Linked DNA regions of Homo sapiens. The protein of the gene in region 2 purifies or fractionates together with the protein of the main gene of each other region. This does not show direct contact. Each region holds a gene or a part of one and is shown on either strand. Other genes may lie near its edges. The genes, in order: NUP153, KPNA5, KPNB1, CHD4, AICDA, CHD8 and SKP2.

Region 1 (3,500 bases), about 99 Mb from region 2:
GTGGGCCAGGCATGATGACTCATGCCAGTAATGCCAGTGCTTTGGGAGGCCGATGTGGGAGGATCACCTGAGGCCAGGAGTTTAAGACCAGTCTGGCCAGCCATAGTGAGACCCCATGTCTACAAAAAAGTAAAAAAAAAAATGAGCTAGATGTGGTGGCATGCGCCTGTGTTCCTGGCTACTTGAGAGGCTAAGGTGGGAGGATTGCTTAAGCCCAGGAGTTTGAGGATGCATTAAGCTATGATTGCACCACTGTACTCCGGCCTTGCTGACAACAAGACACTCACTCTCTGTTTTGAAAAAGAATGATTTCTGTGGCTGCATAAGTATTTCATCATGTCACTGTTATGTAATTTATGTAACCATATACCCTTATTTAATATTTTACCATATAGGTTTTCAATATTATAACTGAAGGATATTTTCAATTATATTAATAGTGTGAATTTCTAAAAATGAAATAATTGCTCAGTTGAAAATTACTTTTTTTGATTAGTTTTGTAAATTGTTGTGTAATCAGATATTTCATGCAGTGGATGGGCTTGCCCTAGTTGCCATATCCTCTCCAGTTTTTTAGTTTGATTGTTTTGATTATCAGTCAGTTAATTGGACGATAATTATAGTTTATATTTTTTTGCCTTTTTATTGGTGGGGGAAGTTATATAGTATGGGAATAGTGTTTTTATCTCCTTGTAATGGCAAATTATCCCTGTAAAGTCATTTGTTTATTGAATTAAAGTGACTTTTTTCATGAACTTTTAGAAATTAATCCAAAAGATGGTTTTGAAAGATTTTTAAAAATGCATTTGAGAGTCCAGTGTTTTATTTGGCATAATGTTATTAAATTTAAAAAAATTACAGCTCATCATGTCACTACAGTGAACAGTACAAATTGTAAGAAGACACCACCTGAAGATTGTGAGGGTCCTTTTAGACCTGCAGAAATCCTGAAAGAAGGAAGTGTTCTAGATATTCTGAAAAGCCCTGGTAAGATAATTAAAAGATAAGCCTTTTGATTACAAACTCATGATCTCAATTTAATGTCATTTTGTATTATACTTTAGGCTTTTAAAAATTTCTGACTAGTTTGGTAGGAGATTTACTTTTGAATAGAGATGTAGTTAGGTGTAATTCTTTTGCTGGAAATATCTTACAAGCCAAAGGACTCTATACTAAAATGAAATTTCTAATAGGCAAGTGTAGGAGGAGGAAATGGATTCTCCATTAATAGAGGTAGGTCAGTGAGGAATAAGAGTAAGTAAACCTGATGATACACATAGACATGTCTTTCTCTTATGAGAGCACTGAACTGCCTTCTTGAATTATTCCCCAGTTTGGTAAATATGGAACAAGGCCAAGTGGAAAGCATCTGCTGAATTGTAACATATACATAGGGAGCAGTACTCACTTGAATTGAAGCAAGATTTGAAAGCTAGTAGGTAATAATTAGAAAGGGGATAAATAGTTCTCAGATAAGAATAATTTTTTGTTTGAAAACAGGATGTTCATAATTCCATTTATGATACATAGTATAAGAATGTAAAACTTGCCAGGCGCGGTGGCTCACCCTTGTAATCCCAGCACTTTGGGAGGCCAAGACGGGCAGATCACTTGAGGCCAGGAGTTGAAGACCAGCCTGGCCAACATGGCGAAACCCCATCTCTATTAAAAAGAGAAAAAATTAGCTGGGCGTCCTGGCATGCACCTGTAGTTCCAGCTACTCGGGAGGCTGAGGCAGGAGAATTGCTTGAACCTGGGAGGTGGAGGTTGCAGTGAACCGAGATCGAACCACTGCACTCCAGCCTGGGCGACAGAGCAAGACTCTGTCTTTAAAAAAAAAAGAAAGGAAAAGAAAAAAAGAATAAAAGAATGTAAAACTGTGAGATAATCTAATAGCTCAGAAAGAATTTAAACGTACCCACCAGATGTGTCCATGTGTAATAAGATAGGTTTTCTTAAAAAATAAGGTTGGCTTTTACAACAGGATTTAGGAGGATTCAATTTTTCTGGTCCAGCTCTCTCATTTTATAGATAAGTATACTGCCTACAGGAGTCCAGTAGCTTGGACAGTTCCATGCAGTTATGGTAGAACTCCAGAGTGCTTGTGCTGGAATTAACCAAGTAGTAGGCAAGCCTCAAATGTGTATAGTCTGTCTTGTGTATCTGGGGTTACACTTTGCATTCATGATGCCAACCTCCCCCTGCTCCCTTTTTACTTCTTAAATAGGAAATGTTTGGGGAGAATCTTCATTTGACTGAAATTAGGAAAATCTGAAAAAGTAGAAGAAAAAGAAATCTGTAATGCCTTGAGATGGTTACTGTTAATATCTTGCCAATCTTAGTGATTTAAATTAATCATAAGCAAAATAACACGTTGCCCACTGGGAATAACTCAAGCATGTGGTATTTTGTCCTTAAGCTAAAAATAGCTCTAGGCTGGATTATTTTGTGGAACTAGAAAACCTCTAATAACCTTCTACATCTTCTCTCCTTTTAATTTCTTTTTCTTTGGCGGGTAAGGCTGGAGAAACAGATCACAGATGGTGGTGTTGTGTGTAAGACAAAAGTTAACTGGTCCTAAGTAAACAATTACAAAAGTCATTCTCATGAGTAAAATACAGCTTGAGTGAATGAACTCAATGACAGCAGTTTTGGTAACAGAAGGACTTGCTCAGCTGATTTTACTGAAGGTAGAGAATACCACAGCAGTAGGTTATGACTGGACAAAATTCAAAGATGACATTGAAGCCATTTGGTGTAGCCAATGGAACACTTAAAAGAAGAAATGGATGAAGGAGAAAGAGGACTGCGAGTATTGTGTGTTTGTAGAGAGACAGAATATAGCAAAATGTGGATGGCAATAATACATATCAGTAAATTAGTACCATTGAAAGCATCAAACTAGAAATTCCTTGAAGGAGAAGGTGATATCCTGTAAACAAAACATCTTTTGTAGAATTTTAAATGGTTTAAGTGTAACTTATTAGGTAATTGATAAATATGATTACTTAAGTGAAAAACAATTCTTAAGTAGTTCATCTTGGATTGTAGTAAGTGTGCAGTGAGGTAAACGTCTTCTCAGTAATAATAATCAAATTAATGCTTTGATTTATAAAGCTTCTCTAACGTTGCACTCTCTCCTTCGTTCATTGTAGGTTTCGCATCGCCGAAGATAGATTCTGTTGCTGCTCAGCCCACCGCAACAAGCCCAGTAGTTTATACAAGACCAGCAATAAGTAGCTTTTCTTCTAGTGGAATTGGGTTTGGGGAGAGTTTAAAAGCTGGGTCATCATGGCAGTGTGATACATGTCTACTCCAGAACAAAGTTACAGACAACAAATGCATAGCCTGTCAAGCAGCAAAATTGTCACCCAGAGATACTGCTAAACAGACTGGAATTGAAACACCAAATAAAAGTGGCAAAACAACTCTTTCTGCATCAGGGACAGGCTTTGGAGACAAATTTAAACCAGTGATAGGCACTTGGGATTGTGATACCT
Region 2 (3,500 bases):
CTTTTCTTCCTCACCAGATATCTGTTACATTCATTTGGCCTCTAATTTTTACTGAATCAATTTCAGAAATATTTCTAGAATCCAACTTGTCTTCTATGTTTTCATTGTAGTAACTTGTTTAGTTCACGCCTTCAGCATCTTTCCTATCTCTCTCTCTGAACTATGTAAAAACAACCTTTTCCTTAATTTGTTTAATTCTATTCCTTAGGATCAAGTCCAAATTTCACAGCTGCATTATAGGAACCATATGTCCTCTAACCTACCTTTATAGCTTTATGTTCTGCCATGCATCCTCATTTTGGACACACTTAGTCTCTTACTGTTCTTGGTTATGCAAGGCTTCTTCAAAAACTTTGCCTTTGCATATATTCCTTCTGCTTGAAATGCTTGATTCTCCCCATTTCTCTTTCCTGTTTTTCCTTTAAAATAGGATACCCATGAAGCTTTCAGAAGTCCCTAAGGCACAATTAGTTGCCATATCTTCACTGCTCTCTCAAGATTTAAAGCATGTATTTTAGTGTACTCCTTACAATAAAATTTGCCAATTCATTAGTCTGTCTCTTCAATATCAGGGATGGCAGACAGATGCCAGCCTCTCCTTCTCTTGTGTTTACTTCATAAGCTAATTGGTCACAACATTGTCTCTGGTTGGACATGGATATGTCCTCTGAATTTAACAGAATAACATACTGGGTACTCACTATCTACTGTTAAACTGAAGTTGGCACCCTGCTTTAGGCAGATTTTGTGTGTGTGTGATGTGTAAGTCCAGAATAGGTTATAATATCAGTATTTTAATATTCCTATAAGATAATATCAAGATATCAATACTGTTACATTGTTAAAGTTTATAATTCACTTTCTAAAAGTAAAACTAGCACATATATTCAAATATGAAATATATTTGCATATATTTTATGTATTTATAAAATAGGTATATAAATGTTAATGTTTTAAAATACATTTGCAATAAAACTACTTAAAAATAAAGTATACATGTATTTTAGTATTTCAAAAGAACTAATTATACTGGAGTACTAAAAACTGATATTGTAGTCATAATTCAAGTCCTGACCCTTGTGGCCATAGCTCTTAAGGCAATGCCTTCAGTAAGTGAAAGAAGCCAGACCCCAATAAATATTTGAGATGTGCTTACTGGAGCCTAATATCATATTTCATTAAAAATAAGATACTTCAAAGCTGGTTATTTCTTGATCTAGCCAGAAACTGTAATTTAGAAGACTTTTTTTTTAACCCAAATAATTCATGATTATTTCCTGACAGTAATTATGTTTCAGAAAGGTTAAAACACTGTGGGGGCTAGGGAGACAGGAAAGGTTGTTGCATCTTAGAATCAATAAGATAGGGTAAACTTTGTCTTTGTTTAGACCAAAATTATTTGTTTAAGATATTATTTCTAAAATATGTGGTCATTTTGCTCTAATCTTGATGTGGAATTAAGGGAATGTATTCTTTGTACATAATTTTCAGAATGGGTTTTGTTGACCTGTTAATCAGTGAGCCTGAATTTAGTTGCTAGATTAAGTGTCTCATGTTGTTTTGAGAGAGTGAGTTATCAGTGTCTGTTTTCTTTTCTCCTTCCTTTAAGATGCCATGGCTAGTCCAGGGAAAGATAACTATAGAATGAAAAGTTATAAGAATAAAGCCCTAAATCCTCAAGAGATGCGTAGACGAAGAGAAGAAGAAGGAATACAGCTTAGAAAACAAAAAAGAGAAGAACAGGTAGGTGTTTTTAGCTATTTAATTTTGTTTTTTAAAATTTTAATTATTTGCTAATTATTGGATAATTTTAAATGGAAATGTTTTAAGAAATTGAATATAGCTAAATCTATTATTTATTAGACTCCAGGCATCATAATTGCAAATTTGTGAAACAGAACTCTGTGCTACTTTAGTCACTGGGAGAAATGGATTTTCTGTTTTATTGATAAACCTGTTGTGTTAATTATATTTTTACCCTACTGCTAGGAAATTTTTCCTCTTGCATCTATTTAGATCACTTCCATTTGTCATTGTAAAATTTGCCCCTTAAAGAAACATTAATTATATATTATTTGCTGCTTTGTAGTTTTCATAATTCTTGCCCGTAAGTAAATTATTGTCATCTTCCCATGCTATTCATACTGTTCCCCCATTGTCTTATTAGCTGGATCTCTGTTTATACTTTTCATATGTGACATAAAGAATATAAAATTGTTTAAGAGAGTACATCTCAACATTTTTTATTCCAAGATGTACTTAAATGTAGAAGTATTTGTAAGTAAGTAAAATAATGTGGTTCTCACACATGTGAATTAAAACTGATGTATGAAAAGGACTAGCAGTGAAGAAAGTAGAAAAGGCCTATTCTCTTCTATTGTATTCTATTCTATTGTATTCTGTAAGTAGAGATGGGGTCCTGCTATGTTGCCCAGGCTGGTATTGAACTCCTCGCCTCAAGCAATATTCCTGCCTCTGTCTCTCAAAGTGCTAGGATTACAGGCATGTAATAGGCAAGGCCTATTTCAGAAATATGATAATGATTTCTCATCTCCCTATCTACAGCGTCTAACACAATCCTTCATACATTATAGTAGGTACTAAAAAAATTGTGTTGAATAAATGATTAGAAGGAAGATTGTTTACATATTAAAGAAGAACAGGCTGGGAGCCCTGGCTCACCCCTTTAATCCCAGCACTTTGGGAGGCTGAGGCGGGCGGATCACGAGGTCAGGAGATTGAGACCATCCTGGCTAACAAGGTGAAACCCCATCTCAAAAAAATTAGACATGCGTGGTGGCTGGCGCCTGTTGTCCCAGCTACTCAGGAGGCTGAGGCAGGAGAATGGCGTGAATTCGGGAGGCAGAGTTTGCAGTGAGCCGAGTTGATGCCACTGCACTCCAGCCTGGGCGACAGAGTAAGACTCCATCTCAAAAAAAAAAAAAAAAAGAAGAACGATATTTATTTAGATGTCAAAAAGAATATAAGCAGATTTTGTTTTCCTCAAATTTTGATTTAGGAAATGTAGAGTTATCCCTTGGTTCCAGGATCCTCTGCAGATATCAAAATTCACTGATGCTCAGGTCCTTTATGTAAAATGGCATGGTATTTGCATATTACCTGCACACATCCTCTTGTATATTTTGAGTCATCTCCAGATTACTTATAATATCTAATACAGTGTAAATGCTGTGTAGTTGAGTTGTTATACTGTGTTGTTTTAAAATATGTATTATTGTCGGGCTCAGTGGCTTATGCCTATAATCCCAGCACTTTGGGAGGCCTAGGTGGGCGGGTCACCTGAGGTCAGGAGTTTGAGACCAGCCTGACCAACATGGTGAAACCCCGTCTCTACTAAAAATAAAAAAATTAGCCGAGCATGGTGGCGCACGCCTATAATCCCAGCTACTCAGGAGGTTTAGGCAGGAGGATCGCTTGAACCCAGGAGGTGGAGGTTGCAGTGAGCCGAGATTGTGCCACTGCACTCTGTCCTGGAGACA
Region 3 (3,500 bases), on a different chromosome or scaffold from region 2:
TGGTTCCTTCCAGATGTATAGCTCATTTGTGTTGGCAGCTTGAATGGTTTTGGTTTTTTTATTTTGAAAACCAAAAAACTCTTGGTTTTTCATTAGGTTATTCAAGCCTAGCTCAGTCAGATTTGGTTCCCAGCTATAGTTCACTTGGCTAAAAATAAAGCCTTGAATTTGTACCGTCATCTTTTGAAACATTTGCTGTTTGACCTAATGTCAGTGACATTAGTTGAAACAAACGAGTGAGGAAGGAATGTTTGATGGGAGAAGTCAGGTTGGTTTGATTTTATCAAGTTTATTTCTAGGTCATCTGTAAATAGGTAGGATATAGGAAGGGTTGCTTTTTGTTTGTTTTATGAATAAGAGCTCTAAGGTGATAGGGCCTTCTCTAAAGCTGAAGTAATTTAACTATCATTCCAGTAAGACTGGACTATGGCGGCTACCAGCAGGGATTTGTCAGACAGTAAGACAAATGAAATTGAGAGGACATGACCTTCTGCACAACGGAGGATCAGCTCACGTTTGTTCTGAATTGAGAAACAGGAGAAATGTTAAAATGTATTGCTGATGATTGGTACTGTCAATGTTTTTGTGTATAAAATACATTTGGCATTCCCAAAATTAAAAAATATCAAGGGACTTAATTGATTTTAAAAAGAAAAGGTATAGTGTTCTGATTGGGAGATTTGGAATCAACTGATCTTGAACTCTTACTCATTTCACAGAATGTTCTTCGGAAAGTGCAACATCAAGATGCTTTGCAGATCTCTGATGTGGTTATGGCCTCCCTGTTAAGGATGTTCCAAAGCACAGCTGGGTCTGGGGGAGTACAAGAGGATGCCCTGATGGCAGTTAGCACACTGGTGGAAGGTCGGTGAGAAATACTGTCTGGTCAGGGAATGTCTTTGGAATGTAGGCATTTCAGTGGCCTTAAATAATTGTCACCCAGGCTGGAGTGCAGTGGCACGATCTTGGCGCACTGCAGCCTTGAAATCGTGGGCTCACATGATCCTTCCACTTCAGTGCCCCCACAGTAGCTGGGACTAACAGATGCACACCACCATGCCCAGCTAATTTTTATATTTTTGGTAGAGATGGAGTTTCGCCATGTTGCCCAGACTGGTCTTGAACTCCTGAGTCAAGTGATCCTCCTGCCTCAGCCTCCCAGAGTGCTAGGATTATAGATGTGAGCCACTGGGCCCAGCTTAATTTTGTTTGTGTGTGAAGATAGGGTCTCACTATATTGCTCAGGCTGGTCTCAAACTCCTGGGCCTCCTTGTCAGAGCATTAAAGAATTTTTGACTATAGAAAGCATAGTCCTTTTACTGGGGCATGAGTCACTTCAAAGTTAGATTGAACTTAAGTGCACACCACTTAAATTTGTATAACTGCCTTGTCAGTCCATTTAAATGGGGAGCCAGTTTGCAACGGAGATTGGCAGAGGTGTTGTTTTTTTTTTGTTTTTTTTTTTTGTTTGTTTTTTTTTTGAGACTTGTTCTGTTGCCCAGGATGGAGTGCAGTGGCACCATCTTGGCTCACCACAGCCTCCACCTCCCAGGTTCAAGCAATTCTCCTGCCTCAGCCTTCTGAGTAGCTGGGATTATAGGCATGAGCCACTGTGCCCTGCTAAAAGTTTCTATTTTCTTTCCTGGTACTTGTCATCACCTGGTTTGGTTTGTAGTGCTTTGGACTAAGATTGACACATCATGGTGCCTGGTATGGGATGAAATGAAACATTGAGCGAGTTCTAGGAATTGATTTTCTGATTTTTACATGTCTGACTGCAAAATTGGTTTGGGGAAGCCATATCTGACTTAAGACTCTTTGAAGGGGCATTACGAAGCACTTTAGGAATCTGATATGCCTTTTCAGGGGTGGCCTGTAAGTACATTGCTAAGGCCATTTACCTGAGGACCACTCTCCTGAGGACTAGACCTATTTTTGGCATAAACAGCCTATGTCCAACTGGTCTGTCAACATGTGACCACTCCTCTGAAAGGGCAAAGAAGTTAATTTTGGCTCCTGGAGTGGCTGATTTGGATCTGAAGCCCAGTGCTGCTTTTCCTGGCTGTGGCTTGTTTAGCCCTTGATGGAATTGCCTAAGGACCCTGTTTTGAAGCTGGCTTGCAGAAAGGACATGCTATTATCAGATGAGGAGGTGGACAAGAGTCAGTATTGCTGGTTCAGCCCATTTAAAATTAACCTTGACATTCCTTGAGGGTCATACCACTTGGTTGTATTAGTCAGAGTAAAGCCCTATTCTGTGGACAGTGGGCATTGTCTCTGTGGCGTATGAATTAGGGCCCTTCCAGCAGTAATAAATTTGGCTTATGCAAGCCTTTAATGTCTTCATGATGGAATCGGTAACTAAAGCACATTTCACCCAACCTGTTGAGTGGAGCGAGTACATTTTGGGAGAGGTAGGATGGGTTATTTCTGCCTGCCTCTGTGTTAACCCGTGGTGCTGTCATTGGCTAATAGCTTATTTCATTACAGTGTTGGGTGGTGAATTCCTCAAGTACATGGAGGCCTTTAAACCCTTCCTGGGCATTGGATTAAAAAATTATGCTGAATACCAGGTAGGATGTGCTTTTCAAAATAGTATGTTCCCATTTATATCTGACAGTCACTGTAGTGCACGCAAAACCAGGTTCTTATAGCTTAAGTAGTTTTTCCTGATACATTGTCCTAAAAGGCAAGCTACTTTATTCATTGCCTGAACGTTTGAACTGGAAGTAGTCCATGAAAAACAGGATATTAGATGTACCAGATAACGGTGGACAAGATATTAGATGTAACAGATAATGGTGGACAAGATGACTGTTTATTTGCTTAGACAGTACTAATGCAGGAGCAGCTATAAAGTTGAGCTATTAGCACCCTGGAGAGCAAGGCTTTTTTTTTTTTTTTTTTTTTAACTTTATCAGTGATCTCTCTCGGATAGTCTTTGTTCCCTGCCTGCCATGTTGGTTGTTGAAAAATTAATCTCGGCAGAGGGATTTAACTCTAGGTTCAAGTGATAAAAGCTCAGCAGCTAGTTAAAAATAATATCTTGCCCCAGCAGGCAGCCTTTTCTGTTAGAAGATTATTTCCTTGATTCTTGGCAGGTTTGTTTGGCAGCTGTGGGCTTAGTGGGAGACTTGTGCCGTGCCCTGCAATCCAACATCATACCTTTCTGTGACGAGGTGATGCAGCTGCTTCTGGAAAATTTGGGGGTGAGTATCTACACACAATCTAATTAACCAGTCTTCTTTGAAGAAAACAACAGTTGGAAAGATAGTTAAATATCGACCAGGCTGGGCGCAGTGGCCTGTAATCCCAGCATTTTGGGAGGCCGAGGCAGGCCAGGAGTTCGAGACCAACCTGGACAACATGGTGAAACCCCGTCTGTACTGTAGATACAAAAAAAATTAGCCGGGCGTGATGGCAGGCGCTTGTAATCCCAGCTACTCGGAAGGCTGAGGCAGGATAATCGCTTGTACCCGGGAGGTGGACGTTGCAGTGAG
Region 4 (3,500 bases), on a different chromosome or scaffold from region 2:
ATCTGTCTGCTTCAGCTTCCCAAAGTGTTAGGATTACAGGCGTGAGCTACTGCGCCTGACACTTCATGTTATTATCTTTATTTATTTATTTTATTATTATTGTTTTTTTTTGAGACAGACTTGTCACCCAGGCTGGAGTGCAGTGGCGTGATCTTGGCTCACTGCAAGCTCTGCCTCCTGGGTTCACGCCATTTTCCTGCCTCAGCCTCCCGAGTAGCTGGGACTACAGGCCATCGCCACCATGCCTGGCTAATTTTTTTTTTTTTGTATTTTTAGTAGAGACGGGATTTCACTGTGTTAGCCAGGATGGTCTTGATCGCCTGACCTTGTGATCCGCTCACCTCCTCCTTCCAAAGTGCTGGGATTACAGGCGTGAGCCGCCGCACTCGGCCTATTTATTTATTTATTTATTATATTTTTTGAGACAGAGTCTTGCTCTGTGGCCCAGCCTGGAGTGCAGTGGTATGATCTAAGCTCACTGCAACCTCCGCCTCTCAGGCTCAAGTGATTCTCTGCCTCAGCCTCCAGAGTAGCTGGGATTACAGGCGTGTGCCACCACGCCTGCCTAATTTTTTTTTTTGAAATGGAGTCTCGTTCTGTCGCCCAGGCTGGAGTGCAGTGGCGCAATCTCAGCTTGCTGCAACCTCCGCCGCCCGGGTTCAAGCAATTCTCCTGCTTCAGCTTCCCGAGTAGCTGGGATTACAGGCACCTGCCACCATGCCCGGCTAATTTTTGCATTTTTAGTAGAGACGGGGTTTCTCCATGCTGGCCAGACTGGTCTTGAACTCCCGACCTCAGGTGATCCGCCTGCCTTGGCCTCCCAAAGTGCTGGGATTATAGGCGTGAGCCACCGCGCCCGGCCTGATGCCTGGCTAATTTTTTTTTTTTTTTTTAGTAGAGACGGGTTTCGCCATGTTGGCCTGGCTGGTCTTGAGCTCCTGGCCTCAAGCGATCTGCCTGCCTCAGCTTCCCAAAGTGCTGGGATTACAGGCGTGAGCCACTGCACCCGGCCAACACTCTATGTTAATTATTAACTGACTGAATTCTGGTGTTTGAGCTCTAGGAAAGTATAAATTAGAGATAATTTTTGGTCAGAGACTGGTACAGTAGAGGCTCTGAAAACGTGTGATCTGTGGCATACCTAGAGGTCTGGTGTGAAACAAACGGTATTGCCAGTTTTTGAGAGGAAGTGAGGAGGGTTGCCTTTTCTGGCTCTGAGGGTTTTCTCTCCTGGACTTGCAGTGTGGACAAGAAGGGCCACGTCCACTACTTGATCAAGTGGCGGGACTTACCTTACGATCAGGCTTCTTGGGAGAGTGAGGATGTGGAGATCCAGGATTACGACCTGTTCAAGCAGAGCTATTGGAATCACAGGTGAGTGATTTTGGGTGAGGCATAGAGTTGTTTCTTTTTTTTTTTTTTTGAGATGGAGTCTTGCTCTGTCACCAAGCTGTAGTGCAGTGGCGTGATCTTGACTCACTGCAACCTCCGACTTCCTGGTTCAAACGATTCTCCTGCCTTAGCCTCCTGAGTAGCTGGGATTATTTGCATACGCCACCACACCTAGCTGATTTTTTTTTTTTTTTTTTTTGAGACGAAGTCTTGCTCTTGTCCCCCAGGCTGGAGTGCAATGGTGCGATCTTGGCTCGCTGCAGCCTCCGCCTCCTGGGTTCAAGCAATTCTCCTGCCTCAGTCTCCCGAGTAGCTGAGATTACAGGCGTCTGCCACCATGCCCAGCTAATTTTTGTATTTTTAGTAGAGACGGGGTTTCACCATGTTGACCAGGCTGGTCTCGATCTCCTGACCTCAGGTGATCCGCCCGTCTCAGCCTCCCAAAGTGCTGGCCTCCCAAAATGCTGGGATTACAGGTGTGAGCCACTGTGCCTGGCCAAGTTGTTTCTTCTATAGAAAAGGATTTTGGGCAGCTGTGTGATGTCTTTCTTCTTTAGGGAGTTAATGAGGGGTGAGGAAGGCCGACCAGGCAAGAAGCTCAAGAAGGTGAAGCTTCGGAAGTTGGAGAGGCCTCCAGAAACGCCAACAGTTGATGTGAGTGGGGGTGGAAGGGACTGTAGTTTGTTGGGTAGGACAATGTATCTTTGCTGCAGTCTAATGATGGTACTCTTAAGTAATGAAATGCAGATAGTAACTTTGTAGCTGAGATTACTTCACAAAGTCGGCTTCCCCACTTCTCCACATCTCTATATATCAGAAAGCACTAGGATTACTTTCTTCTTTTGTCATCAGAAAAAAAAAAAGGAGGTATATTTTGAATGATTGAAGAAGTGTTGTCTGGGGGGAGGGGCCACATAGCCTAGCTTTTATGCACTTACATAGGAATCTGGCTTAATTCAGGCTCAGTTCCTCTGGGTTTTGTTTGTACAGTGTAATTTGAGGGTGATTAAAGTTAAAAAGATGAATCTAAGAGGGACATAACGATTATTTACCTGGTGGATCCTGACTAGTAGAATTATTGTATTGGTAGGGAGTCTGTGACGTGCTTTTCCTCAGTGATCTGTAGGATCAAAATCAGGTCTGGTTAAGCCCTGTTTCCTGGAGGACCCTAAACTGAACATGAAATTGCAGTAATCATAGGGGATCTCTTCCCTCCGAATTTTCCGGAGCTCTTCCCCAAGAGGATCCGTGAAGACTAGTGAGGAGGAAGCAGCTGCTCTATTAGGGGAGGAGGGGAGTTCCTTGCCAGCTCTTGACTTCTCTGTTTCATCCTTCAGCCAACAGTGAAGTATGAGCGACAGCCAGAGTACCTGGATGCTACAGGTGGAACCCTGCACCCCTATCAAATGGAGGGCCTGAATTGGTTGCGCTTCTCCTGGGCTCAGGGCACTGACACCATCTTGGCTGATGAGATGGGCCTTGGGAAAACTGTACAGACAGCAGTCTTCCTGTATTCCCTTTACAAGGAGGTAAGGAAATCTGGGGTGGATAGTTTTTTGTGTGGGTGTTTTGTGTTTGAAGCCTTAACTTACACTGAGTAGAGAGATAAGGGAATAAAAAAATTGGTCTCTGACCTTCAAGAACACTGTGGATAATAGATAAACACATGTACACATGTGTTTAGTAGATAGTAGATAAATGTGATAGTGGATAAACACATGTACACAGCGGAAGATTTGAGGGCATGGAGCCCTGGGTAGGATTAGCAGTGGATCCATAGAGTATCAGTTCTAGGGGAATGATTGTGTGTTGAGGGAAGTAGAATTATGAGTAGAATTAGTATGGAAAGGCTTGGCTGGACGCAGTGGCTCATACCTGTAATCCCAGCACTTTGGAAGCCCGAGGTTGGTGGATCACCTGAGGTCAGGAGTTCGAGACCAGCCTGACCAACATGGCGAAACCCCGTCTCTACTAAAAATACAAAATTAGCCGGATGTGGTGGTGCACGCCTGTAATCCCAGCTACTTGGGAGGCTGAGGCAGGAGAATCGCTTGAACCCGGGAGGTGGAGGTTGCAGTGAGCTGAGATTGCGCCATTGCACTCCAGCC
Region 5 (3,500 bases), on a different chromosome or scaffold from region 2:
TGCTCTTGTCGCCCAGGCTGGAGTGCAACGGCACGATCTCAGCTTACTGCAACCTCCACCTCCTGGGTTCAAGCGATTCTCCTGCCTCAGCCTCCCAAGTAGCTGGGATTACAGGTGCCTGCTACCACGCCTGGCTAATTTTTGCATTTTGAGTACAGACGGGGTTTTGCCATGTTGGCCAGGCTGGTCTCAAACTCCTGACCACAGGTGATCCGCCCGGCTCGGCCTCCCAAAGTGCTGGGATTACAGGCGTGAGCCACCACGCCCGGCCCTCTCTCTTTCTTTTTTTTTTTTTTTTTTTTGAGAGACAGGATCTTGTTATGTTGCCCAGGCTGGCCTTGAACACCTGTGTTCAAGCCATCCTCCCTCCTCAACCTCCCAAGCAGCTAGAACTATGAGCGTGTGCCACGGTTCGCAGCTTTATCATTCTGTTTTGTCACAACTCTCTTATATAGTTAATATACCTTTGGGAGAAGCATCACACACATACAAAATGTAGCAAACCTTGACCTGATTGGCATTTCTGAGATGAAGAGACCCACGAGAGCCAATAGATTTTCCTCTCCCCAACATTCAAGCAACTTCCTTCCAATTGTTTGCTAATTATGATATGTGAAGTTTGTGGGTGTTTCTAAATTAGGGACTTCCTTAAAAGAGTTTGCGTTTCCAGAAGATTTGCTACTTCAGACATCAACCCATTATTAGGGTGTCTTGTTCACAGTCCTCCTGCCCATTTTAAGATCCTTTATTAAAGTAGCTTGAAGGTGACCATGCATGGTCTATACCTCCATCCCCACCCATAACAATCTTCTTTTGTACAAACATAAAAACATGCTTCTGCTGATTAAAACATACAGCGCATGATTGGATATTAATGCTTTGGAGAGATGGTTTGGGGTCACAATCACCCAGATACTCTCATTAGGAGGTCCTATAGATCATGGCCTGATGGAAGAGTTTGTGTTACTTGAAAGTAAACGTCAAGGGAAAAGAATAGAAAAATCTATCACTAACACCACTGTTAACTCAAATGAATCAAATAATAAAGGATGTTGATATAAAAACATTTGATCCTCTCACCATGCTTTTTAGGATCTACCTTCTGCTCTCATCCTACCTAAAAGTCATAGAAAAACGTTGACACTTTAGGATGCTCCCAGGTCCTGCAGTTCTGTTATTCCCAGTAGGGGACAATGTTGCATTCAAAACTGCACCAATTGCAGCACGTCCCTGGCCAGACCTGTGTTCCTTCTCTATTTTCAAGACATAGATCTTTTTAAAGAGTCGTATATAAATATTTTTTCTGTAAACTCTAAGAAAGTGAGAGTTGAAGAATAAAAACAGAGAAGACTTGAAGGACTGTTTTTTATCCACTGTCTTCAGCAGAGATATTTCATCGTGTGTGACATTCCTGGAAGTTGCTATCAAAGTCCCAAAGTACGAAATGCGTCTCGTAAGTCATCAACCTCATACAGGGGCTGTAGAGAAAGAGAGAAGCAAATTGAGTGAATGGCTTCAAAACGAGGTTGGGGGTCGGTGGGGCCGGAGAGTCTTCTAAACTGAGTGGATGGCTTTGTAACATGTTGGAAGAAAGTAAATTGGGAAAGAGTTTTTTTGGGTTTTTTGTTTGTTTGTTTAAAAAAAAAAAAAAAAAAAAAAAAAAAGGAGAAAAGAATTCTGACCAGGAAGGAAACGCAACCCTGGGGAGAGACAGAAATTTAAAGATGTGAAACAACAAAAGAAAGAAAAGGGAGGGAAAAGGAACCTTAGCAGAGGGCTCTGAATGGTGAAACAGCAGAAGAAAAAGCTGATGTGGAGGAGAAATAAAGTTTTCATCAGATGAAAACTGAGAGTGATTGAACAATAAGAAAATATAAGAAATATACGAAACTCCAAAAAAGACTGTAGAGAAAGAAAGAAAATTTAAAAAGCGAGGAAGCCCCTTACCAAAAGGATGCGCCGAAGCTGTCTGGAGAGACGAACTGAATTTTCATGCAGCCCTTCCCAGGCTTTGAAAGTTCTTTCGTGGTTTTCTACAAAAGTATTCCAGCAGTAAAAATAATCTTCAAAAAAAAAAAAAGGAAAAAAAGGCGGGGATATGGGGGTAGAAGACAGTTCAGGTTCCAAATCGAGGGGAAAGAAGCAACCCTGGCCCCATTTTCTCATTTCCTCGGGGCCTTGTCTCTGAGCCATTCACTCTTTTCTCTGCTTCTAATCTTTAATTTCGGCTCCAGAGGTGAACCAGAATCCCCGCCCACTTCTTCCCCTCGAGCTTCCCCACTAACTCATTCATTCCGCATCGCAATCCCGAATGCGGGCTGCTGCACTGCGCCTGCGCGGAAGGCCCTTTCGCACCTTTGAAGGTCATGATGGCTATTTGCACCCCGGCGCGGTGCAGCCGCCGCAGCCCCTCGGGCTCAGCCTTGCGGTCCTCACAGAAGTAGAGGCGCGCGGTGAAGATCCTCAGACTGAGGTTGGGGTTCCCTCGCAGAAAGTCGGCCACATGTCGGGCACAGTCGTAGCAGGGGCTCCAGGAGGTGAACCAGGTGACGCGGTAGCAGCGGCCAGGGTCTAGGTCCCAGTCCGAGATGTAGCGGAGGAAGAGCAATTCCACGTGGCAGCCGTTCTGGAGAGACAGAGAGGACCACGCTAAAATTCACTGACTTTTATTGCGGCTCTGGTAGCCTTAGTCATTGTCTCCTGCAATGATCTTTGGGGATGCTTGCAGCTATTGTCCTTGTGTTACAGAGAGGCTAAGCAACTTGCTCAAAAGAGCACACCAGTAGGTAGAGCTGAACCCTTGGCAGCACTAGTCCTGCAGAGTGAAGGAAGGCTATGGGTTTTTGTGGAATGAGGAAGACGAAGTGCGCTGAGTTGGGAGGAAGCAGCATCACACTACCTCACCGAAGATTTAATTTGTGTTTATGAAGTTGCTTTTTGCACCTTTTGAGAAGGAAAATGGCTAGAAGTGCCTGTTGATGTAACATTGTGGAAATATACCTGGACCACTAGGTGGAGGCAGGACAGTTTATGAGGACCATTTGGGAGGATCTGAAAAGGGGAAATAGATTTTGGTAAAGCAGACAGATGGGTATTGTAAGAGAAGTAATAGGCACTGCCATGAGAAGTAAATGAAAGTGCTTGATAAAATCAAAGCCTTCTGAAATAGAATGTGTCATGTCACCGAATAGGAAGGAGATTGGGATGTATTCAATACAAATGTAGGCAAAGAAAATTGCATGGTAATATAACCATCAAACAACGAGCCAGACGATGACCTTCCACCCCACGGATGCTTCCCTGAGATTCCACCAAGCCCAGACGTCACAGCGTGTTAGGAGAGAGGAGATACCCGTGGGCAGAAGTTTATGTAAACCCATCTGGATTTTGGTGAAGAAGTCTCTTGGAAATGTAATTCTCTCGGGTAGCCGAAAGATCAATTTAATTAATCATCAGCCGAGGCTTCTCTGAGTTTTCTGGGGATCACCATGTTGAATGTA
Region 6 (3,500 bases), on a different chromosome or scaffold from region 2:
ATAAAAACAAAAAAGCGTGAACCATACAAATGAAATAATAAAAAGTAAATAGTTGGGTAGGAGGAAGAATTACATAATAAAAGTCAAGAAAAAGGAACTGTGTTGATCAAAGTGTTTCAAATTCAAGCAATTACGAATGGTACATTGTCAATTTCTTATAATTATTTGTATTCCATTGGATGCTATACCAGACTGACCCAAAGTTTTGCACCTGGCCTGCCATTCCTGTAAACACGAAATTAAATACTAGGCCAGGCACTGTGGCTCATGCCTGTAATCCCAGCCCTTTGGGAGGCCACAGTGGGTGGATCACAAGGTCATCAGTTCGAGACCAGCATGGCAAATAAGGTGAAACCCCGTCTGTACTAAAAATACAAAAAAAATTAGCCAGGAGTGGTGGCGCATGCCTGTAATCCCAGCTACTTGGGAGGCTGAGGCAGGAGAAACACTTGAACCCAGGAGGCGGAGGTTGCAGTGAGCCGAGATGGCACTGCTGCACTCCAGGTGATGGAACAAGACTCCATCTCAAAAAATAAATAAATAAATAAATAAATAAAAGACTAGGCCAGGATGGGATCACTTGAGCCCAAGAGTTTGAGACCAACCTGAGCAACATGGTGAAACCCCATCTCTACTAACAATACAAAAATTAGCCTGGCATGGTGGTGGGTATGTGTAGATCCCAGCTACTCAGGAGGCTGAGGCAGGAGAATCGCTTGAACCCGGGAGGCACAGGTTGCAGTGAGCTGAGATCATGCCACTGGAATCCAGCCTGGCCTACAGAGTGAGACTCTGTGTCAAAGAATATATATATAAAAATAAAAATAAGGCCAGGCATGGTGGCTCACTCCTGTAATCCCAGCATTTTGGGATGCCAAGGCGTGTGAATTATTTGAGCCCAGGAATTTGAGATGAGCCTGGGCAATATGGCAAAACCCCACTTCTAAAAAAATATGAAAATTAGCCGGGTGCGGTGGCACACACCTGTAGTCCCAGCTACTCAGGAGGCTGAGGGAGGAGGATCGCTTGAGTCCAGGAGGTTGAGGCTACGGTGAGCTGTGATAGGGCCATGACACTCCAGCCTGGGCGACAGAGTGAGACCTGTCTCAAAAATAATACTAATAAAGATTATTTCATGCTGGATATATGTGTGGCTAGGTCTTCATCCTAGGTTCCCTTAGTGATAGAAGATACATTATTAACATTTTCTTGTGCCTCTCCATAATTTTAGGGTTGACTTTGATAAAGATTGTGAAGATCCTGAATATAAACCACTCCAAGGTCCCCCAAAGGACCAAGATGATGAGGTAAGGAATTCTCATTTGAGTCTCACTTTTCTCTATTACTAAATAGTTTTAAGTCTTCAACCATTCTCTGAATCTTGAAATATATTGGTTAATTTATAATACAAAATGGAAAATGAATTATACCATTTGAGAATAGAAAATATTAATGGAAAGGACTGTAATGCCAGTAGGGGGAGATCAGGGATAACTTTATGGAGGAGCTGGACACTGAAAGATATTATTTGACTAATAAATTCCTGACTTCTATTATCTTTGAGTCGTTAATAGGAACTGACCTTTCAGGTTCTACTTTCTTGTTCTTTTAGTTGATTGTTTCCAAGTTTTTGTGGGGATATATTTCTTTAGAAGTTTTTCTTGATCCCTTGGTGCCATAGAAGGACACACACAAGAAAGTGATTTCAGAGTGCCAACTTCCCCCCCTTTCCCTCCCCGCTCCATCCTATTGGGTGGATCTCCTTCTCTAGGGTGATCCCTTGATGATGATGGATGAGGAGATCTCAGTGATTGATGGAGATGAAGGTAAACTTCTAGGTCAACTAGTATAATTCTGTGTGGGGTGGTGGGTTGGGGAATTATTCACTGAATTCTGTCCTATCCTGGGATTTCTAAGAGCTTTGCCTTTGGGTGGGTTAAAATACTAGTATTGCCTCTACTACCCTTGCTATACTTCCTATTCATTCTACTTTGTTTTCCACAGCCCAGGTGACCCAACAGCCAGGCCATTTATTCTGGCCTCCGGGCTCTGCCCTAACAGCTAGGCTTCGGCGTCTAGTAACAGCGTATCAGCGCAGCTACAAGAGAGAACAAATGAAGATAGAGGCTGCAGAACGTGGGGACCGGCGAAGGCGGCGTTGTGAAGCAGCCTTCAAGCTGAAAGAAATTGCACGGCGGGAGAAACAACAACGGTAAAATATAGCTGGGAACTTGTGCTGATCTGTGTTTTCAGTTATGGTCCCTATACTGAAAGCCATCTCAGGAAGGATTTATTTGGAATTCTCTACAGAGGGACCATCTTTTCTGCCTTGGGTAGTTAAACCTGTAGAAATTAAAACCTCACTTGCATGCAGTAATCATTAACTCTCAGGTAGGTCTCCTGTGTAGACATTTTCATTGATATTTGTCTGTGTCTTTTCCCCCTTGGCTCTGTAATTCTTACTCATTACAGAGTACCTCTCACTACCTCTTCTGGGCCTTTTTTTTTTTTTTTTTTTGCGTCTACTTTCAATTTTTGTGTTTTCAGATATTCTAAAACACATTAAAAAATAACCAGTTTTCTTGTGTTCTTCTGATGTGTTCTTCTGATTATTGTTGCCCTACTTTTCCTTTTGTAGATGGACAAGGCGTGAACAAACTGATTTTTATCGAGTGGTGTCTACGTTTGGTGTGGAATATGACCCTGACACCATGCAGTTCCATTGGGATCGCTTCCGCACTTTTGCTCGACTAGACAAAAAGACAGATGAAAGCCTTACCAAGTACTTCCATGGCTTTGTGGCCATGTGCCGCCAAGTATGCCGCCTTCCCCCAGCAGCTGGAGATGGTAAGCAAGATTGCAGAGTGGGTGAGGATGGATGCCAACAGAAGCAACTCTGTTAATTTCTTCTACTCCTGTCTCTTGCAGAACCCCCCGACCCTAACCTGTTCATTGAGCCCATCACTGAGGAGAGAGCCTCACGGACTCTCTACCGTATAGAATTGCTTCGGCGCTTACGGGAACAAGTTTTATGCCACCCCCTTTTGGAAGATCGGCTGGCATTGTGTCAGCCTCCTGGTCCTGAATTGCCCAAATGGTGGGAGCCTGTTCGGCATGATGGGGAGCTTCTAAGAGGGGCAGCCCGCCATGGGGTGAGCCAAACAGACTGCAACATCATGCAGGACCCAGACTTCTCTTTTCTGGCTGCCCGTATGAATTATATGCAGAACCATCAAGCAGGAGCACCAGCTCCATCCTTGTCACGCTGCTCTACTCCACTGCTGCACCAGCAGTATACCTCACGCACTGCCTCACCACTGCCCCTGCGCCCAGATGCTCCTGTTGAAAAGTCACCCGAGGAGACAGCTACCCAGGTCCCCAGTCTGGAGAGTCTGACTTTAAAGCTAGAGCACGAGGTGGTGGCCAGGAGCCGACCAACCCCACAAGACTATGAGATGCGAGTATCCCCCTCTGATACTACCCCTCTGGTTTCCCGGAGT
Region 7 (3,500 bases), on a different chromosome or scaffold from region 2:
CTTTTTGAACTTACGTGAGGGCCTGTCATTCCTGTGCTCAGAATCTTCTAGTGGTGCCTCATAGAATTCAGCGTCAAAGCCAAAGGCTTTATCATGACCTAGGAAGCCTGCATGACCTGGCTGCTCTCTGATTTTTCTACCCACCTACCTCTGCGCTCTACACTGGCCTCCTTGCTATGCCTCAAACACACATGCTGTTCCTTGGATCTAGAACACGTACACCAGATACTCACAGGGCTCACTCCCTCACTTTGTTCAAGCCTTTGCTTAGTGATCGTCATCTCAGTATGGCCTTCCCTGACCACCATGTTCAAACTTAATAACATCTGCTCTGAACTCTCTGTTCTCTCCCTTGCCCTGTTTAATTTTTCTGCACAGCACAGATCAATTTTACTATATCATATAATGTACTTATTTTTTGATGTGTGATTATCTGTTCCGCATTACTGGAATGAAGTCCCACGAAGGTAGTGTTTTGGGTCTGATTTACTACTCCTTCCCAACACCTAAAATGATACCTGGCACCATAGTAGGAGCTCAGTAAATATTTGTTGAATTAAGAAATGACAATACCCTTTTGTATTGCTCTTTTAGGTAAACTGTGCCTTTTGTAAACCTGAAAGAAAGCATATTAGTCTGTTCTCATGTTGTTAATAAAGACATACCCAAGACTGGGTAATTCATAAAGGAAAGAGGTTTAATTGACTCACAGTTCAGCCTGGCTGGGGAGGCCTCAGGAAACGTACAAGCTTGGTGGAAGGGGAAGCAAACGTCCTTCTCCACATGGCGGCATCAAGTGCAGAGCAAAGGGGTCGGGGAAGCCACTTGTAAAACCATAAGATCTTGTGGGAACTCACTTATCACCAGAACAGCATCAAATTACAGGGGCGGTTATCACCAGGTAACCGTCCCCATGATTTGATTACCTCCCACTGGGTCCCTCCCGCAACACATGGGGATTATGGGAACTACAATTCAAGATGAGATTTGGGTGGGGACACAGCCAACCATAGCAGAAAGGGAAGAAGATTTATTTGCCTTTTAAATAAGGTCACTACTGAGTCCACATCAGAGAGAAACAAGGCCTTCCTTTGCACCCAGAAGCACCACAATATCTTATTGATGTCAATGAATTGACAATGTCATTGAATGACATTTGAGAGGGTGGGACTTGCTCTGTACCACTCTTCATGCCACAGCCTCCGATTGGCTGGCTAGAGCTGAAGGGAAGAATAGGAAAAGTGTTCTGGGTTTCTCTTTTTGATTTGCTGAGAGAGTGTGGTGGTCACTTCAGGGTACATAGATGATGGAATGGGGAATTTAACACGAATTAAATTACTCATCACCACAATTATTTTTCTGTTCAACAGAAATGATTTTTCAAACAAAAATAATTGTGAGGATGAGTAATTTAATTTGTGCTAAATTCCTCATTTAAGCTAAATGTTGTATATTCTTTATGTGTTTGAAAAGACTCAGTAGACTTGATAGGGTGAAAGAATGGTGATGGCAAACACTTGTTTTCCCTCCAAAGGTGTTTCATGGGACTCCCTTCCGGATGAGCTGCTCTTGGGAATCTTTTCCTGTCTGTGCCTCCCTGAGCTGCTAAAGGTCTCTGGTGTTTGTAAGAGGTGGTATCGCCTAGCGTAAGTATTTTTCACCCCTTTGGCAAACGTAGGGGAGGAAGAGGAGAGGAAGGTTATTTATTCGTTTTGGTCTGATGAAACTAAAAACCAAGAAAAATAGAGCAGCGCAAAGCAAACTAGGTATCTTCATATTTTTATTAATCAGTGTCCTCATTTCACAGTGGAAGAGGAATTTCCTGGGAGGGATAAACTTACCAATGTCTGGAAACCTCTTTGCCCTGTATTCAGTGCAGCATGTGTTTATGGGATGCTGACTGTAGGCCAGGCGGTGTGCTTTAAGTGCGGAGAGAGTTACAGAGGTGCATGCAGACAGCGGTTCCTCACGCCGCTGGGCTGAGCAGTGAGCACAATAGGGAGAGGGAACACAGGCTTGGTGTTAGACCCGAGTGCACACCCAGCCTCTGCTGCTTACGCTCTGCATGACCTGAGTGAGTTAGTTGACACTGCTGAGCCTCAGTCTCCCCATATGTAAATGGGGATAATGGTTATGAGGAGGAAACCACTGGTTATGAGGATGAAATGTGAAGATGCTGGTGTAATGCCTGACTCACAGACATGTTCCACACAGAGTAGCCATTGGTGGGGTTGTGCTCTTTTTTTGGCAACACTTTTCAAGTGTGGAAGGTGAGTTGCATGTGGAAAGACTTGGTGAGCTGGAAAGGCAATAACAGGCCTGGAGCAAGAAAAAGGCTATGTTTATCAACTGGAACTTTTTACTATCTTCATGCCTTCTCATCCCTATCCTACCTCCTGGTCATTCTTTGCTTTGTGTTTAAAGGCCATCCGTCTGGCTTCTCCCTCCACATACTTAGAACTCCCTGTGTGAGATAGCAGGAGCCTCTTGCCTTCAAGGGCGTGCTGCTATTTACAGGTGTGGGTTGTTTGCTTAGAAGAGCCGCAGAGAGGGTTGCACACCTGGAATGCTGGTGCAAGTGGCAGGCAAGTTTCACTTACCCTCACCGCACTCAACCCCACTTTGGTTTTCTTTTTCTGCCAGCTATGCATTTATCCTCTTCTTGCAGAGTCTGTTAATCCCATTTTAAAATTTTATTGTATATATTTAAGGTATACAGCATGATATTTTGTTATAAGTATGTGAAATGGCTGCTATCATTAACATATTCATTATCTCACATAGTTACCTATTTTTTGTGGCAAAAGCACCTAAAATTTACTCTTTTAGCAAACATTCTGACTACAATACAGTATTATCGACTCTAGTTCTCCTGTTGTATACTATATCTTGGGATGTGTTCATCCTGCATATCTGTGGCTTTGTATTCTTTGACCTACATCTCCCTTAGAGTCTGTTAAACTTCATCTCAGTTGTCATAAAAGTAATTACTGACATTTATTAAGCACTTGCTTTGTGACAGGTGCAGTGTTTGCAATTTAATCCTCCATATGATTTTAAGTGATGGTGTTTGTGTCATCTCAGCTTCAGAGGTGAGGAAACTGCAGGGTCAGGAATAGTAGGTTGAGAGATAAGTGGAAAGGCAGGAATCTAAAGTTTGGCTAACTCCACGGTCTTAACCATCATACCATATCTAGTTATGCTTGGCTTAGGGTTCAGGTAGCTCCCAAATTCATTTTTCTGTGAGGTGTTCATCTTCCTAAAAAATGTATATTATTTGGAAAGAAAATGAATTGTTCCAAAACTTCTCCCAGGTTGTTGTTATTGAATGCTGGTTAAGCTATAGTTTGCCTTCTTGCAAGAGGAAACATCAAGCATGAGATTCAAGACAACCAGAGCAGTGCTGATCTGGTGTCAATACCAATACCTTGGAGGCCAAAATGGATTTCTGTCTGGGCAAGAAAGATACAAAAGTGTGCCACTCTCTTAAGGATATCTTA

What was found.
Region 1: the proteins of KPNA5 (region 2) and NUP153 purify together in Homo sapiens (affinity purification with mass spectrometry; one large-scale study listed by BioGRID and IntAct). This does not show direct contact.
Region 3: the proteins of KPNA5 (region 2) and KPNB1 purify together in Homo sapiens (affinity purification with mass spectrometry; 2 studies listed by BioGRID and IntAct, with this or other methods). This does not show direct contact.
Region 4: the proteins of KPNA5 (region 2) and CHD4 purify together in Homo sapiens (affinity purification with mass spectrometry; 2 studies listed by BioGRID and IntAct, with this or other methods). This does not show direct contact.
Region 5: the proteins of KPNA5 (region 2) and AICDA purify together in Homo sapiens (pull-down; one study listed by IntAct). This does not show direct contact.
Region 6: the proteins of KPNA5 (region 2) and CHD8 purify together in Homo sapiens (affinity purification with mass spectrometry; 3 studies listed by BioGRID and IntAct, with this or other methods). This does not show direct contact.
Region 7: the proteins of KPNA5 (region 2) and SKP2 purify together in Homo sapiens (pull-down; one study listed by IntAct). This does not show direct contact.

Annotation. Positions count from the first base shown.
Region 1 is NC_000006.12:17,637,426-17,640,925, reverse strand, and holds part of NUP153 (nuclear pore complex protein Nup153), read left to right. Parts: intron 1-861; coding exon 862-987; intron 988-3,155; coding exon 3,156-3,500. UniProt on the Homo sapiens protein: Component of the nuclear pore complex (NPC), a complex required for the trafficking across the nuclear envelope. Functions as a scaffolding element in the nuclear phase of the NPC essential for normal nucleocytoplasmic transport of proteins and mRNAs.
Region 2 is NC_000006.12:116,687,711-116,691,210, forward strand, and holds part of KPNA5 (importin subunit alpha-6), read left to right. Parts: intron 1-1,609; coding exon 1,610-1,743; intron 1,744-3,500. UniProt on the Homo sapiens protein: Functions in nuclear protein import as an adapter protein for nuclear receptor KPNB1. Binds specifically and directly to substrates containing either a simple or bipartite NLS motif.
Region 3 is NC_000017.11:47,673,919-47,677,418, forward strand, and holds part of KPNB1 (importin subunit beta-1), read left to right. Parts: intron 1-719; coding exon 720-864; intron 865-2,490; coding exon 2,491-2,573; intron 2,574-3,101; coding exon 3,102-3,209; intron 3,210-3,500.
Region 4 is NC_000012.12:6,593,880-6,597,379, reverse strand, and holds part of CHD4 (chromodomain-helicase-DNA-binding protein 4), read left to right. Parts: intron 1-1,242; coding exon 1,243-1,374; intron 1,375-1,949; coding exon 1,950-2,046; intron 2,047-2,729; coding exon 2,730-2,921; intron 2,922-3,500. UniProt on the Homo sapiens protein: ATP-dependent chromatin-remodeling factor that binds and distorts nucleosomal DNA. Acts as a component of the histone deacetylase NuRD complex which participates in the remodeling of chromatin.
Region 5 is NC_000012.12:8,602,860-8,606,359, forward strand, and holds part of AICDA (single-stranded DNA cytosine deaminase), read right to left. Parts: intron 2,627-3,500; coding exon 2,356-2,626; intron 2,064-2,355; coding exon 1,948-2,063; intron 1,479-1,947; coding exon 1,425-1,478; 3' UTR 1-1,424. UniProt on the Homo sapiens protein: Single-stranded DNA-specific cytidine deaminase. Involved in somatic hypermutation (SHM), gene conversion, and class-switch recombination (CSR) in B-lymphocytes by deaminating C to U during transcription of Ig-variable (V) and Ig-switch (S) region DNA.
Region 6 is NC_000014.9:21,393,624-21,397,123, reverse strand, and holds part of CHD8 (chromodomain-helicase-DNA-binding protein 8), read left to right. Parts: intron 1-1,231; coding exon 1,232-1,307; intron 1,308-1,771; coding exon 1,772-1,826; intron 1,827-2,004; coding exon 2,005-2,212; intron 2,213-2,638; coding exon 2,639-2,847; intron 2,848-2,928; coding exon 2,929-3,500. UniProt on the Homo sapiens protein: ATP-dependent chromatin-remodeling factor, it slides nucleosomes along DNA; nucleosome sliding requires ATP. Acts as a transcription repressor by remodeling chromatin structure and recruiting histone H1 to target genes.
Region 7 is NC_000005.10:36,162,111-36,165,610, forward strand, and holds part of SKP2 (S-phase kinase-associated protein 2), read left to right. Parts: intron 1-1,534; coding exon 1,535-1,646; intron 1,647-3,500. UniProt on the Homo sapiens protein: Substrate recognition component of a SCF (SKP1-CUL1-F-box protein) E3 ubiquitin-protein ligase complex which mediates the ubiquitination and subsequent proteasomal degradation of target proteins involved in cell cycle progression, signal transduction and transcription.